2 separate regions of the Homo sapiens genome follow, and region 2 is linked to region 1. Evidence: fine-mapped expression QTL. Tissue or cell type: tibial artery. Region 1 holds a variant in brackets; the other region holds the start of a gene. All regions are shown on one strand. Distances are between the middles of the regions.

Region 1 (8,103 bases):
TTTCCCCTCCGAGTAGGAGAAAAGTCAGCACTGTCCAGCCCTGTGGCTCTGATGACAGTGGTGGCTTAGTGTGGTGGCTTTGTGTGGTGTCCCCCTTAGAGGTGCTCTACCTCTTCCAGGCTCTGAAGTTCCCATAAACGAGGGGAGAATGAACAAGAACCAGTCACTGGCACTTGATGGTTTCTCTTATGTTGTTTCTCTTATGTTGTTTGCAACCTCCGCCTCCTGGGCTCAAGTGAGCCTCATGCTTCAGCTTCCCAAGTAGCTGGGACCACAGGTGTGCACCACCACACCTGGCTAATTTTTTTGTGTTTTTTGTAGAGATGGGTTTTTGCCATGTTGCCCAGGCTGATCTCAAACTCCTGAGCACAAGCAATCTGCCCACCTCGGCCTCCCAAAGTGCTGGGATCAAGAGTATGAGGCACTGCACCCAATCTGTTTGTTTTTTCTTTTTTTTGAAATGGAGTCTCGCTCTGCTGCCCAGCCTGGAGTGCAGTGGTGTAATCTCAGCTCACTGCAACCTCCACCTTCTAGGTTCAAGCAATTCTCCTGCCTTAGCCTCCTGAATAGCTGGGATTGTAGGCACGCACACCCACGCCTGGCTAATTTTTGTATTTTTAGTAGAGACGGGGTTTCAGCACATTAGCCAGGCTGGTCTGAAACTCCTGGGCTCAAGTGATCGGCCTTTCTTGGCCTCCCAAAGTGTTAGGGTTACAGGCATGAGCCACTGCACCCAGCCTGTTTGTTTTTTCTATAGTCCTTTTTAAAGCATGACTCCATGTCCTTCTGAAGCAGAAACTCACCTCCTGTCTCAAGTGTTTCATTGAGTGGGGGTGGAGTGGGATATCTTTCCTTTCCAGAATCTGGGAGAGCTGCAGTGGTTTGAGTTGTCTAGTGGAACTGCCTTAGTCAGTTCAGGCTTCTATAACAAAATACTGTAAATGGAGTGGCTTATAAACAACAGATTTTTTTTTCTTTTTCTTTTTCTTTTTTTTTTTTTTTGAGAGAGAGTCTCACTCTGTGGCCCAAGCTGGAGTGCAGTGGCGCCATCTTGGCTCACTGCAACCTCTGCCTTCCAGGTTCAAGCAATTCTCTTGCCTCAGCCTCCCAAGTAGCTGGGATTACAGGTGTGCACCACCATGCCCAGCTAATTTTTGTATTTTTAATAGAGACAGGGTTTCACCATGTTGGCCATGCTGGTCTTGAACTCCTAGCCTCAAGTGATCTGCCTGCCTTGGCCTCCCAAAGTGTTGGGATTACAGGCGTGAGCCACTGTACCTGACCAGAAATTAATTTCTCACAGTTCTGGAGACTGGAAATCCAAGATCGGAATCAACTTCTGGGTGGGGCCTTCTTCTTCCTTCAGATGGCCAGCTTCTAATTGTATCCTCAGCTGGCTGAGCACAGAGAGAGGAGGCAAGCAAGAAGCAGCAAGCTCTCTCAGGACTCTGGTTTTAGAGACCAGGTCTTGCTCTGTCACCCTGGCTGAGTGTAGTAGCACAAATAGCTCACTGCAGCCTCCAACGCCTGGCCTCAAGCAATCCTCCTGCGCTGGGCTCCTGAAATGCTGGTATTACAGGTATGAGCCACCATGCCTAGCCCCGTTCATGAATGAGGGCACTAATCTCATTCATGAGGGCCCCAATGACCTCATCTAATCCTAATTACCTCCGAAAGTCCCCACCTCCTAATATCATCACATTGAGGGGTGGGGTTTTAACATACACATTTAGTTGGGGACACTTAGTCTGCAGCAAGGACCAAACACATCATGTCAAGAGAAGCAAGAGGCAAATACTTCGAGACTGGCCTTGATCCTTAGAATATCTGGTTACTCTTAAATAAGGGCTCTCCAAATACTCCCTCTGTAGATCAAAGCCAAAGAACCCAACTCATCAAGAGTGGCTGCAGAAGGTGCAGCCCACACAGTCTGAGCACTAGAGGATCCCTAGGTATCCCCTAGATTCCAGGTCAAAGGCCCTCACCCCCTATTTGGTGACAGACTCAAGTACGAGCTTGTGGATTTTGAAATGAAAAGCAGTTGGTGCGGGAAGGAGTCCTTTGCACATAGAGGTGCTCAATAAATGCTGGATGCTGGGAGAAGAACATGCTCTAAAGGAGGCCAATGTTCTGTAATTTGAGGAGAGAAGAGGAGGCTGAGTAGGACTGGGGGGTCTTGCTACTTCAGCCAAGGTAACCAGGGAGCCTCCTCTGCACCCCTACCAAACTGGAGGTGGGAGGACAGGTTATCATTAGGTCAGATCAGCCTCCTAAGCCGGCATGAATCATTCTCAGGCCACCGCTGAGCCTACCTAGTCTCTGGTCTTGTCTAGACACTTCCTCTCCAGCTGAGGCTGGGAAGCAGGTGCAGTCACTTACAGCCTCACTCTTCACGGTGCTGCCATTAAGGACCCTGATTAGTAGAGCCCCATGCCGGGTTGCTAATGGGTTGAGGACATTAAGCATAAATGCTTTCCCAGATATGGGCTTGACCAGAGCCCAGGAAGAAACAAATATTTTAATCTCAAAGAAATAGCATGTAGGAGGGGAGGGGTTCCCTCTGCTTACTCGGCATCTGTTGTCCTCCCATCTTCCACCTGCCACACTTGCTGCCATTCTCAAGTCCCGGGAATTCCCTGTCCAGGCAGTGGGGTTTGTGGCAGGGGAGAACAGATCTTCACTCACCCAGGTGTATGAGAATGGAAGAGATTCTCAAAGATTTAGAGGGAGGGGGATTTTGTGGACTGCCTTGTCCTATAAACCTGATGGTCAAGAAGTCCTTGACATTGAATTTGGATGACTCTTGTGATAACTCAAGCCTACTTCCCCTTGGTTGGGGAGCTGGAGAAAAGGACTGAAGATCATGAGGGACATCTTTTGACCCAAACAAGTTGCTTTAGGTCAGTGATTCTCCCAACGTGGTTGGGACCAGCAGTATTGGCATCCGCATCAGCTGGGAACTTGCTAGAAATGTAAGCTCTCAGGCCTACCCCAGACCTACTGAATCAGCTCTGGGTGTGGCATCAGGCAAACTTGTTTTTTTGTTTGTTTGTTTTTGAGACAGTCTCACTCTGTTGCCCAGGCCAAAGTGCAATGGCATGAACACAGCTCACTGCAGCCTCGACCTTCTGGGCTCAGGTGATCCTCCCACCTCAGCCTCCAGAGCAGCTGTAACCATAGGCACACGCCACCAAGTGTGGGTAATCTTTTGGTATTTTTAGTAGAGATGGGGTTTTGCCATGTTGCCCAGGCTGGTCTCGAACTCCTAGGTTCAAGTGATCTACCCACCTCAGCTTCCCAAAGTGTTGGGATTACAGGTGTGAGCCACTGCACCCAGCCCAAACTTGTTTTAACAAGCCTTCTAGTGGTTCTTATCCACTTTCAAGTTTGAGAACCACTGCTCTTGGCTCTCCCTCTCGGACTGAAGGGGAATGTCAAGAGAAGGAAGAATTATGAGGGATGCAGCAAGCAGCCTCATCCAAAGAAAAAAAGAAACTGGAACTTTCCCAATGTGGAAATCTCGAGCCAGGCCTCAGAAGAGGCCTCTGATCCTCTGCGGCTGTAAATGTCAGAGCAGTGTCTAAGTGGCCCTGTGAGGAGGGAGT[T/G]GGGGGGAAAATAACCAAGCATGACCTTTTGCATTTTGCCCAGAGCAAGGAAGGATAATGGAGCAATCTTTTCAGGTCATTTATCTCCTACTCAGCCTCAGCTTTTCTCAGCTACCTTTCCCTCCAGCTGGGGCCCCCTAAAGCCTAGCCCTCCTTTCCTTCTCTTCCACCAGCCCTCTGCAGCCCTCTGGCCAGGCCCCTTCCCACCCCCGCAAGCCCCCAACCCCAACCCCCACCCCCGTCTATCTTTCCCCCTCCTCCATCAAATGAGAACTGGTTCAAACTGTTTCTTTTTTCTTTCTTTCTTTTCTTTCTTTCTTTCTTCTTTTTTCTGTCTCTCCCTCCCTCCTTCCTTTCTTCCTTCCTTCCTTTCTTTTTCTTTCTCTTTCTTTCTTTCTTTCCTTCTTTCTTTCTTTCCCTTCTCTCTCTCTTTCTTTCTTTTTTTGAGACAGAGTCTTGCTCTGTCACCCAGGCTGCAGTACAGTGGCGCAATCTCGGCTCACTGAGACCTCTGCCTCCCTGGTTCAAGCAATTCTCCTGCCTCAGCCTCCCAAGTAGCTGGTATTACAGGCACTTGCTACCACACCTGGCTAATTTTTGTATTTTTAGTAGATTCAGGGTTTCACCATGTCTGACCTCAGGTGAACACCCACCTTGGCCTCCCAGAGTGCTGGGATTACAGGCCTGAGCCACCGTGCCCGGCCTCAAACTGTTTCTTAAGCAGACCAGCAAGGAACGAAGCCCTATTCCATAGGGAATAAGAGGGAGAAAAAAAACACTATAACCTGTAATGGGGCAGCCTCTCTTCAGACCCCACCCCCTTTCCTTTTTTTTTTTTTTTTTTTTTTTTTGAGACGGAGTTTTGCCCTCGCCCAGGCTGGAGTGCAATGGCACGGTCTCAGCTCACCGCAACCTCCACCTCTTTGGTTCAAACGATTCTCCTACCTCAGCCTCCTGAGTAGCAGGGATTACAGGCATGCGCCACCACACCCAGCTAACTTTGTATTTTTAGTAGAGATGGGGTTTCTCCATGTTGGTCAGGCTGATCTCGAACTCCCAACCTCAGGTGATCCACCCACCTTGGCCTCCCAAAGTGCTGGGATTACAGACGTGAGCCACTGCGCCCGGCCTCCTCCCCTCTTTCCTACCCAGGCCATACCAGTTTATCGTGCCTCCATAAAGAGTGAAGCCACTCTTTCCCTGGCCTTTTACACAACACCTGAATGGTCACACTTGCAAAGAAAGAAAAGGACAAAATCTAGGCTCCTAACCAATCCATATGTTTCCCAAGGGCCAATAGTGCTCTATAGCTTATTTTCCTTCTACATCTGCCATACTAGGTAACAAACGCACTAGATGTCTAATGAATATTTCATAAATTGAACTCAAGGGAGCTCCTAGAAGCAAGAAACTAAGGAGTCTGTTTCCAAATTGGACCCACAACAGGAATCAAGACATGGGTCCTCCTGAAATGACTAAGGAAGAAGCAGCCTTCTGCTGCCTTTGTTCCCATGCACTGCTGTCTTCATCTGTTCATTCACTCCACAAGCATGTAGAGCACACCTGCTGTATGTGGACCCTAGATCATATGTTCTAGTGGGAAAAACACATATAATGTAAGTAAACATATAATATTTCAGGTGATGTTAATTGCCTCAGAGAAAAACAAAGGATGGTAAGGGGGATGGGGATGGTGGGAATGGGGCCCAAGAAAAGCCTCTTTGAGTGGGTGGCATTTGAGCAGGATCCTAAAGGAAGTGAAGGAGACACATTTTCAGCTATCTGGGGAAAGAATGTTCCAGGCAGAGGGTATAGCAGCTTCAAAAGCTCTGAGGTGGGGGTATTTTGCAAGGCGTGGAGTGAGTGAGGCTGGAGTGGAGTGAGTAAGGATGAAAGATGTAGGATATGAAATCAGAGAGAAATTGGTGCTCAGATTATGTAGGGCCTTGTAGACCATGGTAAGGATTTTAGATTTCTTTCTGAGTGAGGGGGGAGGTCTTTAGAAGGTTCTACACAGAAAAGTGACACGTTCTGATTTAACGGGATTACTCTGGCTGCTGTGTTTAGAACAACCTGTAGGGGGCAGAGCAGAAAGAAGAAAACCACTTAGGAGACTATGGCAGAGCAAGGAGTTTTCCCCTCAAATTCATCCTTTCCTTCCACATTTTAGCGGGCGACATGGCTGCTCAGAAAAAGGACTACATTTCCCAACCTCCCTTGCAACTAAGCGCAGCCATGTGACAAAATGCCAGCAAAAAGGATGTGAGCAGGCCGGGCGTGGTGGACTATGCCTGTAATCCCAGCACTCTGGGAGGCCAAGGCAGGCGGATCACGAGGTCAGGAGTTCAAGACCAGCCTGGCCAGGGTGGTGAAACCCCATCTTTACTAAAAATACAAAAATTAGCCGGGCGTGGCGGCAGGCGCCTGTAATCGCAGCTACTCCGGAGGCTGAGGCAGGGGAATTGCTTGAACCCGGGAGGTGGAGGTTGCGGTGAGCCAAGATCGTGCCACTGCCCTCCAGCCGGGTGATAGAGCGAGACTCAGTCTCAAAAAAAAAAAAAAGAACATGAACTAAAAAAGGTAAATGCGTGAGGTGATGGATATGTTCATTAGTTTGATTGTGGTAATCATTTCACAATGCATACAGATACCAAAACATTGCATTGTACAGCTCAAATAATATATACAATTTTAATAGAAAATGGTCTCGATCTCCTGATATTGTGATCCGCCCACCTTGACCTCCCAAAGTGCTGGGATTACAGGCATGAGCCACTGTGCTCGGCCCCTAATTCTTTTTTTGAGGGAGAGTCTCACTCTCTTACCCAGGCTGGTGTGATCTCGGCTCACTGCAACCTCTGCCTCCTGGGTTCAACCGAGTCTCATGCCTCAGCCTCCCAAGTAGCTGGGATCACAGGCACGCGCCCCCATGCCTGACTAATTTTTGTATTTTTTAGTAGAGATGGGATTTTGTCATGTTGCCCAAGCCAGTTTTGAACTCCTGGCCTCAAGTGATCTGCCTGTCTTGGCTGGAATTACAGGCATGAGCCACCACGATGGCCTGTATTGTACCTAATTCAAAGGCTATTGTAATTTCTCAGGCAAACAGTGACAGCGGGTGGTTCTGATGAGGGTGATAGTGGTGTAACTGGGTATAAGTGACCAGATTCTGGAGATAATTTAAAGGGTAGAACTTGATAGCATTTCCCAAGGGATTGGATAAGGGGACATGAAAGGAAGAGAAGAACCAGGAATGACTCCAAGATTGGGGCTCTGGTAGAACAGATTTGCATTTATTGCCCTGGGGAAGACTGAGGGACTGCTGAGTTTGAGAGGACTATAAGAGAGACTCACATGGGGATGGCAAGTAGCCGCTGGATATGACCACGACCTATCAACATAGCTGGCTTTAAAGTCCAGAGAAGATGGAATTAGTTAGGGAGTGAGGATGGATGAAGAAGAACAGAGGCGTAAGGACAGCCCTGAGGCATCCAGTGATGGGGAGGTGAGGAGCCAGCCCAGGAGATGATGGAGGTAGGAGAACTGGGCGTGTCATGGAGGCCAAAGGAAGAGAGTGTTTTATGAAGAAACCATCCATGTCAAATGCCACTGCCAGGATGAGTAAAATGGGGACTCAGAAATGACAGCTGAAATTAGCAACATGGAAATCACTGGTGACATTGACAAGAGAATTTGCCTTGGAGCACTGAGGACAAGCAGGGATGGGAAGAGAGGAAGTGGAGACAAATACAGACGATTCTTAATTCCTGGCAGGTAGAAATCATTAAAGCATCTAATTTCCACCCTTCCTATCATAGTTCTAAGCCTTCTAAAGGACATGAAGGCACCCAGCAACTCAGTCTATCCAGCTCCCCTTCCACATGGGTCTGAAAGGCTCTGCAGTTTTTCCTCTCCCAAATTCACCCTGTTGCTGAGAGCCCCAGCCTGCCTGCATCTCTGCCTCTGCCCTACTGGCTCCCAAGGCCGCTCTCAAGGACTGCCTTGGCAGGCTAGGCAGCCAGGCCTGACTCTCCTGGATCATAATTAGTGCTGCTGCTAACAATGTTTGGCCTCTGTGGAATAGCAACCTGGGAAGTTCTGATACTTCCAATTTTCCCCCTCAGTGCTCTCCCAGATGCAATTTCCCAGCCAGTGCCTTGTGCTCTCCAGCCCTGGGCCCTGGCTGCCTCCTTGCCAGGGAGAATTAAGCCTGTGCCCCAGATGCCACTCCAGAGGGCCTAATCAGTTAGGTAAAACCATCTCCTGGCCACTGTCATGGCATTATCGTATTAACACAGGCACTGGCTTTGGAGGAGGCAGGGGGCTGCTATAAGGAAGAGGAACCAGGCCAGCCCTACACAGCACACAATGAGCATTGCTAGTCAGAAAACTGATGGCTGGAGAAAAAGGAGCCCTCCCAGATGAACTCTGGAGTTTTCAGTAGAGATGCAGCTCAACCATCTCCTCTTTCCTGATGAGAAGCCCACCAAGTGCTCCT
Region 2 (8,098 bases), 880 kb after region 1:
CTAAGGACATTTATCATGAACTTTTAGGAGAGGCTGAAGTTCAAAAGGTGACACATGTTCCTTTTTCGGCTAGTACCATAACTAGACAAAGTGATGAAATACAGAGGATATTGGGGCACAATTGTTAGGATTAATGAGTCACCATGGTATGCAATCCAGGTTAATGAGTCTACTGATGTTGACAAGACAACAATGCTTGTTTTTGTGCCATATCTTTTTCAGGAGGATGTGCAGGGGAATATGTTATGTGCACTTTTGTTGCCAACCAACACCACAGGTGCAGAACTATTCAAGACTTTGATTACATATCAGAAAAACGGAATTGGTCATTTTGTGTCAGTATATGCACAGACAGAGTGGCTGATATGACTGGATGGCTTTCTGGTTTCACTACTCAGGTCAAAGAGGTCACTTCTGAATGTGAGTCTATGCACTGTGTCATCTACAGAGAAATGCCGGGTAGCCGAAAATTGTCACCCGAACTTAAGGTTTTACAGGATGTGATTAAAATTATCAATGACATTAAAGTGCATGCCCTTAACTCAATGTCTGTTTGCGCAACTCTGTGAGATGTGTATAAGAAATGAGATGGCTTTCTAAAGGTAGATAACTGGCCAGAATTTTTGAGTTATGAGAGCCACTCCAGAGATTTCTTTTACAAAAACAGTCACCACTAGCAGCACATTTCAGTGACATAGAATGGGTGGCAAAACTTGTTTACTTGTGTGACACATTCAACCTGCTCAGTGAATTCAATCTGTCACTTCAGGGGAGAATGACAACTGTGTTCAAATCAGCAGATAAAGGGGCTGCATTGAAAACCAAACTGGAGTTATGGGGGCGATGAGTGAACATTGGGATTTCTGACATGTTTCAAACATTAGCAGAGATTTTGAAAGTGACTGAGCCAACGCCTTCTTTCTCCCAGCTGCTGCATGATCACCTAGCTCAGCTTTCAAAAGAGTTTGAGCTTTACTTGCCAACCACAAAAAAATCCCTGAGCTGGGAAGGAATGGATCCACCACCCATTTGTGAATAAGCCAGAAGAATTGACTTTGTCGATACTAGAAGAGGATCAACTGCTTGAGATTGCAAGTGACGGCAGCCTTGTATGTTTGAGACAACTTCAAATCTCCATACATTCTGGATGGAATATCCTGAGATTGCCACAAAAGCACTGAAAAGCCTGCTTCCATTTCCAGCATCCTATATTTGTGAAGCAGGGTTTTCTGCAGTGACAGCAACCAAAACTAGATTATGGAGTAAACTGGACATAAGCAACACACTTCGGGTGTCACTGTCTCCCATCACCCCCAGATGGGAACCGGCTAGTTGCGGGAAAACAAGCTCAAGCCTTCCACTGATTCTACGTTACGGTGAGTTGTATAATTATTATATTTCATTGAATATTATGATGCAATAATAATAGAAATAAAGTGCACATTAAATGTAATGCACTTGAATCATCCTGAAACTACATCCTGGTCTGTGGAAAAATTGTTTTTCACAAAATAGGTCTCTTGTGCCAGAAAAGTTGGGCACTGCTGGTAAACTATTATTTAAAAACAATGTAGGCAAAAACTATCTACCAAAATTGTAAATTCCTAAAGTAACAGTTTTCATAAGTTATGGTCTTTATTCCTTCAGGAGTTCATCTTTTACTGTTTTAAGATTTGGATGACTCTGAAACAGTGGTGCCATCTCAGCTAACAACAGCAGCATCTGCCTTCTGGGTTCAAGCAATTCTCCTGCTTCAGCCTCCCAAGTAGCTGGGACTACAGGCATGCGCCACCACACACGGGGTTTCAATTTGTTAGCCATGCTGGTCTTGAGCTCCTGACCTCAAGTGATCCGCCTGCCTCAGCCCCCCCACAGTGCAGGGATTACAGGCACGAGCCACTGTGCCCAGCCCATTTTCCCCTTTCTTTATTATCAATAGGCAAATCCTGACATTTGAATTTTTTTTGTAATAACAAGGTTAATAGCTTTCTACTGTCCTCTTTCATTTTTTTAATGTCATTTATCACTATCTAACATGCCATATACCACTCTTATTTGTTTATTGTCTGCTTCTTCCCACTAGAATGTAAGCATCATGAGGGCAGAGGTTTTTGTCTGTTGTTTACAGCCATATTGCCAGCACCAGGCATAGGATTCATATAATTGGATAAACTGAGCACTTACTGTGTACCAGGCATGTATACATGTTTACATGTAGAATCTTATTTAATTTTCACTACAACAGAAAGATGTTTTATTATTCCCATTTTAAGATAATAAAACTGATTACATTTTTTTAAAAGGTTAAGTAACTTAGCCAAAGTCACATAACTGAATGGTTACAGGGTAAGTGATAGATCAGACTAGTTTACCCTCAAACCTTAGCCCATCTATTTACCTTTGTTACAGTATCCAAACTACTTAACCTAAGATTCAGCACATTCCATAGTATCATTTCATAGTACCAAAGACCCTCAACCTATCTTACCTCTCACTATTTTCTATCTAAAACTGCCTGCTTCTCTCAAACTAACTGGCCCACTCCCTGTCTCTTGAAGCTTATGTTCCCTCTGGATTTTGCTCAAATAAACTCCCTACAGAAATCTTTTTTTTTTTCCTTTCCAACTTTTATTTTAGGTTCAAGGGATACGCGTGGAGGTTTGTTATGTGGGTAAATTGTTAGTCTTGGGGGTTTGGTGTATAGATAATTTTGTCACCCAAGTCATCAGCATAATACCTGATAGGTAGCTTTTTAGTCCTCACCCTCCTCCCACCCTCCATCCTTAAAAAAGACCTGATGTCTAATGTTCCCTTCTTTTGTGTCCATGTGTACTCAATGTGTAGCTCCCACTTATAAGTGAGAACTTGTGGTATTTGGTTTTCTGTTCCAGCCTTAATTTGCTTAGGATACTAACTAGTCTTTGGCTCTGAGGTTCAGTGCAACTTCCAATTCTTTCCTAAATCTTTCCTGAATACTTGAGGATACAGTGAGGAATTCCTCTTAACTTCTTCAGCGTTTACCATATGGTTTTGGAGGCTTTTGGTCACGTAATGCCTCATATTAACTATGTCCCACCCCATTTATCTTGCTTGGCACACAAAGGCTCAATAAATGGAAGCCATTGTAATTTTCTTCCATTCCCATCTGAGTGAGGGCACTAAAAGCAGTAACTTAGGGGTATATGATCTCTCTCTCTGTAAAACATTCGTCTAACCCAACATCTTTAAAAAGCTAACATTCTACTTTTGGGAGGCCGAGGCGGGCAGATCACTAGGTCACGAGTTTGAGACCATCCTGACCAACATGGTGAAATCCCGTCTCCACTAAAAATACAAACATTAGCCAGGTGTGGTGGTGCCCGCCTGTAGTCCCAGCTACTTGGGAGGCTGAGGCAGGAGAATCGCTTGAACCCGGGAGGTGGAGGTTGCAGTGAACCAAGATCGTGCCATTGCATTCCAGCTTAGGCAAGACTCCGTCTCAAAAAAAAAAAAAAAAAAGCAAAGTTAACATTCTAGGCCAGGCGCGGTGGCTCACGCCTGTAACCCAGCACTTTGGGAGGCCGAGGCAGATGGATCACCTAAGGTCAGGAGTTTGAGACCAGTCTGACCAACATGGTGAAACCCCATCTCTGCTAAAATACAAAAATTAGCCGGGTGTGGTGGTGGGCGCCTGTAATCTCAGCTACTCAGGAGGCTGAGGCAGGAGAACAGCTTGAACCCAGGAGGCGGAGGTTGCTGAGCCGAGATTGCGCCAGTGCACTACAGCCTGGGCAACAAGAGTGAAACTCCATCTCAACAACAACAAAAAAGCTAACATTCTAGTTCAAAGAAAGCAACACATAGATGATGTAAATTACACATAAAAAACCATTCACTGAGGTTAAATGAAAATGTCTGCTGGAGTGTGCCAAGGGGACCTGAAAGGGCCTCCTCTGAGAGGGCATCGTGGGAGGGCTTCAAGGAGGGCGGGAGGGTGGCAGGGAGGCAGGGATGTCGCGCCTCGTCTGGTTCCTAATGTCTGAAGTTCTTTTGGTTCCCTGTTGTCTTTCACACCGCCGCCTCGGGCTCGCTTTTGCGCAGGGCCACGTGGCAAAGTTTTAGTTTAACCGCACGTCGGGCCCACTGTAAACGGTTAATAACCGCCTTCGTGGACCAGGCCTCTGCCCTCCATCTTTGTGCGGGCGGGAGGTGGGGCGGGGACGCCAGGTGTAGCGGACAAGCGGAGAGGCGGCGGGTAGATCCGGGCCCCCAACCCCAACAGTCAAGTTTTCAAAAAGCCCGCGCGTGGCGCCCCAGACCGCATCCGTTGGGAATGGCCCCCAGCGCGCCCCCTGCTCTCTCCCCGGCAAAGCCCTGGGCGGGAGAAGGCGCGGGGGTGGTAGGCCGGCTCTGCACGCCGGGGGCGCCGGGGCAAGCGCGCACCGGGGAGCGCGCCCGTCCAACAGCTGCCGAAAACGGAAGTGGGTGCGAGGGGATCACGGTGATTGGCTGAACTCAGATGTCTCTCAAGGGGCTGGCGCGAACGCCACTGCGGAGTTGGGCGAGGGGATGAGTAAAGGGGAGGGGGAGAAACACTGGGAACAGCCGCGGTGCTAGGAGGAAATGAATCGCGGTGGTGCGCGGAGGGCAGGGAGGGACCCATGTCAAGGGACAGTGGGGCGCTCGGGAATGAAAGTGGGCTGGCAGAAGCGGAAGCGGGAGCGGCACAGGCCGCGGGCTTGAATAGACCGCGGAGGGCGGGGAGTCCGTGATCTAGAGCGGCGCTGCGGCGCGGTAGGCGGGATTAAGGGGAGCGAGGCGGGGATTGGCTGGTAGCCCTAGGCTGCCGTACGTCGGCGGTGACGCACGCCTCGGGGAGGGTGCGCGCGCGTTCAGCGGCCTCTTTGTGTGGTGCCCAGATAGGGGAGCGGAGGTGGCGGCGGCGGCGGTAGCGGTGGCCTTGGTTGTCTTCCAGTCTCCTCGGCTCGCCCTTTAGCCGGCACCGCTCCCCTTCCCTCCCCCTTCCTCTCTTCCTTCCTTCCCTCCCCTTCCCTTTTTCCCTTCCCCGTCGGTGAGCGGCGGGGGTGGCTCCAGCAACGGCTGGGCCCAAGCTGTGTAGAGGCCTTAACCAACGATAACGGCGGCGACGGCGAAACCTCGGAGCTCGCAGGGCGGGGGCAAGGCCCGGGCCTTGGAGATGGAGAATTCTCAGTTGTGTAAGCTGTTCATCGGCGGCCTCAATGTGCAGACGAGTGAGTCGGGCCTGCGCGGCCACTTTGAGGCCTTTGGGACTCTGACGGACTGCGTGGTGGTGGTGAATCCCCAGACCAAGCGCTCCCGTTGCTTTGGCTTCGTGACCTACTCCAATGTGGAGGAGGCGGACGCCGCCATGGCCGCCTCGCCCCATGCCGTGGACGGCAACACTGTGGAGCTGAAGCGGGCGGTGTCCCGGGAGGATTCGGCGCGGCCCGGTGCCCACGCCAAGGTTAAGAAGCTCTTTGTCGGAGGCCTTAAAGGAGACGTGGCTGAGGGCGACCTGATCGAGCACTTCTCGCAGTTTGGCACCGTGGAAAAGGCCGAGATTATTGCCGACAAGCAGTCCGGCAAGAAGCGTGGATTCGGCTTCGTGTATTTCCAGAATCACGACGCGGCAGACAAGGCCGCGGTGGTCAAGTTCCATCCGATTCAGGGCCATCGCGTGGAGGTGAAGAAAGCAGTCCCCAAGGAGGATATCTACTCCGGTGGGGGTGGAGGCGGCTCCCGATCCTCCCGGGGCGGCCGAGGCGGCCGGGGGCGCGGCGGTGGTCGAGACCAGAACGGCCTTTCCAAGGGCGGCGGCGGCGGTTACAACAGCTACGGTGGTTACGGCGGCGGCGGAGGCGGCGGCTACAATGCCTACGGAGGCGGCGGCGGCGGTTCGTCCTACGGTGGGAGCGACTACGGTAACGGCTTCGGCGGCTTCGGCAGCTACAGCCAGCATCAGTCCTCCTATGGGCCCATGAAGAGCGGCGGCGGCGGCGGCGGTGGAGGCAGTAGCTGGGGCGGTCGCAGTAATAGTGGACCTTACAGAGGCGGCTATGGCGGTGGGGGTGGCTATGGAGGCAGCTCCTTCTAAAAGAAAATTTAAAATGCCTGGGAGTGGCTATAGGGGTAGCTCTTTCCAACAGCCCAAGTGGGGTCAACTCCTAAGCCCCACCCCCTCACACACACCGCCTTCCCTGTTTTGCCCTTGGGGGAGCCACTTCTAAGGCTGCTTACCCTTGGGGGTGTTCCTCTATTTGCCTGCCACCTCTCTTGTCTCTCCCTCTGAAGATGGACTCGGCCCCACATACACATTTTTGTGTTACAGTCATTGATGGACTCTATTTTTTTATTATTACTTGGACCTTGGTCGTTTTTATACTAGCAAAATGTCTTGTTTTAATTTGTGTTTTTTGGGGGGAGGGAGGGAGTGAACTTGCTGATTCTGTAGCAAAACCTGGGTGGGGGTTGGGGTGGGGGGTAGTTTACTTTGTTGTAAGGACTTGATAACCTGGCTACAGCGTTTTCTATGAAATCTACTTGGATCCCATGCCTGAAATTTGGAAGCATATGTACAAAAATCATTTTTACGTTTTATTTTTAATAAATCATTGTGTTTGACCGTACATGTCTAACATTTTTTTTCTAGGATCCATTCCGTACCGTTTTTTAAGGGATATTTGTTTAAGACTTTACGTGTTAATTCTTTATTCTTGATGTGTACTTAGAGAAACTTAAGAGGTCCTGTGGTTTTTTTCCCCTCTCCTGTTGCCCTGCTAGTTGCGTGTTGAATTATATCCCTTACAGGCAAAACTTTTGAAGTGGTGGATGTGGCTTTTTAAACTCTTAAGTTTCTGTGCATCCATCTCTTGTACTAAGCGAATTGTTTATCATCTTGACATGGTTGGTCATTTCTATGACAATTTACTTCAAACTGTGTACTGTGTAGTTCTATATAGTTTGTGTTAAGCATGTCATTCATATAAACTGTTTAAAATTTTTCAGATGGCCTAGTTTCATCCCTCTTACTGGTTTGTCTGTAATGAATGGTTAAAAATAAGGGTTATATTTTACCCTCAAATGCGTTTTTGTACTTTCAGAGCAGGTTTAAACGTTTTTTTTTTTTTTTTCCTATATCCGAACTGTTGGCCTCATGGAAATCCCTTTCCCGATCTTTGTAGCACCATCTACTGGCAGAATGGCAGAGTAGCTGCGAAACAATTTGTTTAAAAACTTGCTTAAGACAATTGCATCAGATTTGGAAGTTTTGCCATCAAAATTCTTTGCAGAATTGGAAGTTAACACATTTGCTTGTAACTGAGATGGGCTTCACAGGAATGTAGTTGCCAGTTCATATCACAATAGCCCTTTCTATATGAGGTTTGAAAATGTAAACTGCTATGCATAGCTTGGGCAATAGCCCTAAATTGCTATGACAACTAATGAACCAGCTACGTATACTGGTATTTTAGGTGCAAGTTGTAAAGCAAAATATCTGTGTATTCTGCTTGGTTAACAAATGTATATTTGTAGCCCTTTCCTGCAATAGCATTCAAGTTGTTGTTTATAAGAGAAGAACAAAAGTGATAATAGGTGAAAATTGCCTTTCTGGATAGAAATAGAGAATAGCAACGTTTATGGATATCACAAATAAAGAATTCAATTCTTTACATGATTGAGTGAGAGTATGTATAACCTGGTGGGTGGGTTCAGAGTACCTTTTAATCTAGTATGCTTAACTTGATGTTAATATTTAACTTAAATATTTGACTTACATGTTGACGTTGAAGGCTCAAAGCTATACTAAGAAGCTTTCTGAAAGATTGGGCTTTAAAATAAAATAATATTTTAATATTGAACCATTTTTTAACTTCTTGTCACTGTTCAATTCCTAAGGTCTAGTTCTTGCCAGTTTTTTTTTTTTTTTTCCTGATTGGCAGGGCTTTTAAAGAAGTAAGAAGAAAGGTTAAGATTATTAGGCTAGGTTATAGCTGCTCAGTAGTCATTTTGACAAAGGGTAGCGGATGGTTGGTACAAATAGTGTTATATCCTCTATGACAAACGGGGTGGATGTTTTTACACATTGAGGTAATACATA

Alleles and levels. Positions count from the first base shown, and alleles are read on the strand shown. Sizes are in standard deviations (SD) of each study's normalised expression.
For the expression in tibial artery of the gene that starts at base 4,880 in region 2, allele G in region 1 goes with a higher level than allele T (small effect, 0.15 SD a copy in GTEx).

Evidence for each region. PIP is the estimated chance that this variant, and not a neighbour inherited with it, causes the effect.
Region 2: HNRNPA0 starts here. The variant in region 1 is fine-mapped to the expression of HNRNPA0 in tibial artery (GTEx, PIP above 0.99).

Annotation. Positions count from the first base shown.
Region 1 is chr5:138,630,899-138,639,001 of GRCh38, reverse strand. No RefSeq gene overlaps it. Among named protein-coding and RNA genes, the nearest start is that of HSPA9, 60 kb to the right of the region's middle. The variant T/G (reference allele first, on the strand shown) is at 3,606.
Region 2 is chr5:137,751,145-137,759,242 of GRCh38, reverse strand. HNRNPA0 (heterogeneous nuclear ribonucleoprotein A0) reads left to right here and starts at 4,880. Exons shown (of 1, transcript NM_006805.4): 1 at 4,880-8,098. The coding sequence starts at 5,177. The coding sequence ends at 6,094. RefSeq lists enhancers at 564-683, 4,148-4,839, 5,101-5,450, 5,961-6,120, 5,530-6,221 and a silencer at 4,161-4,520.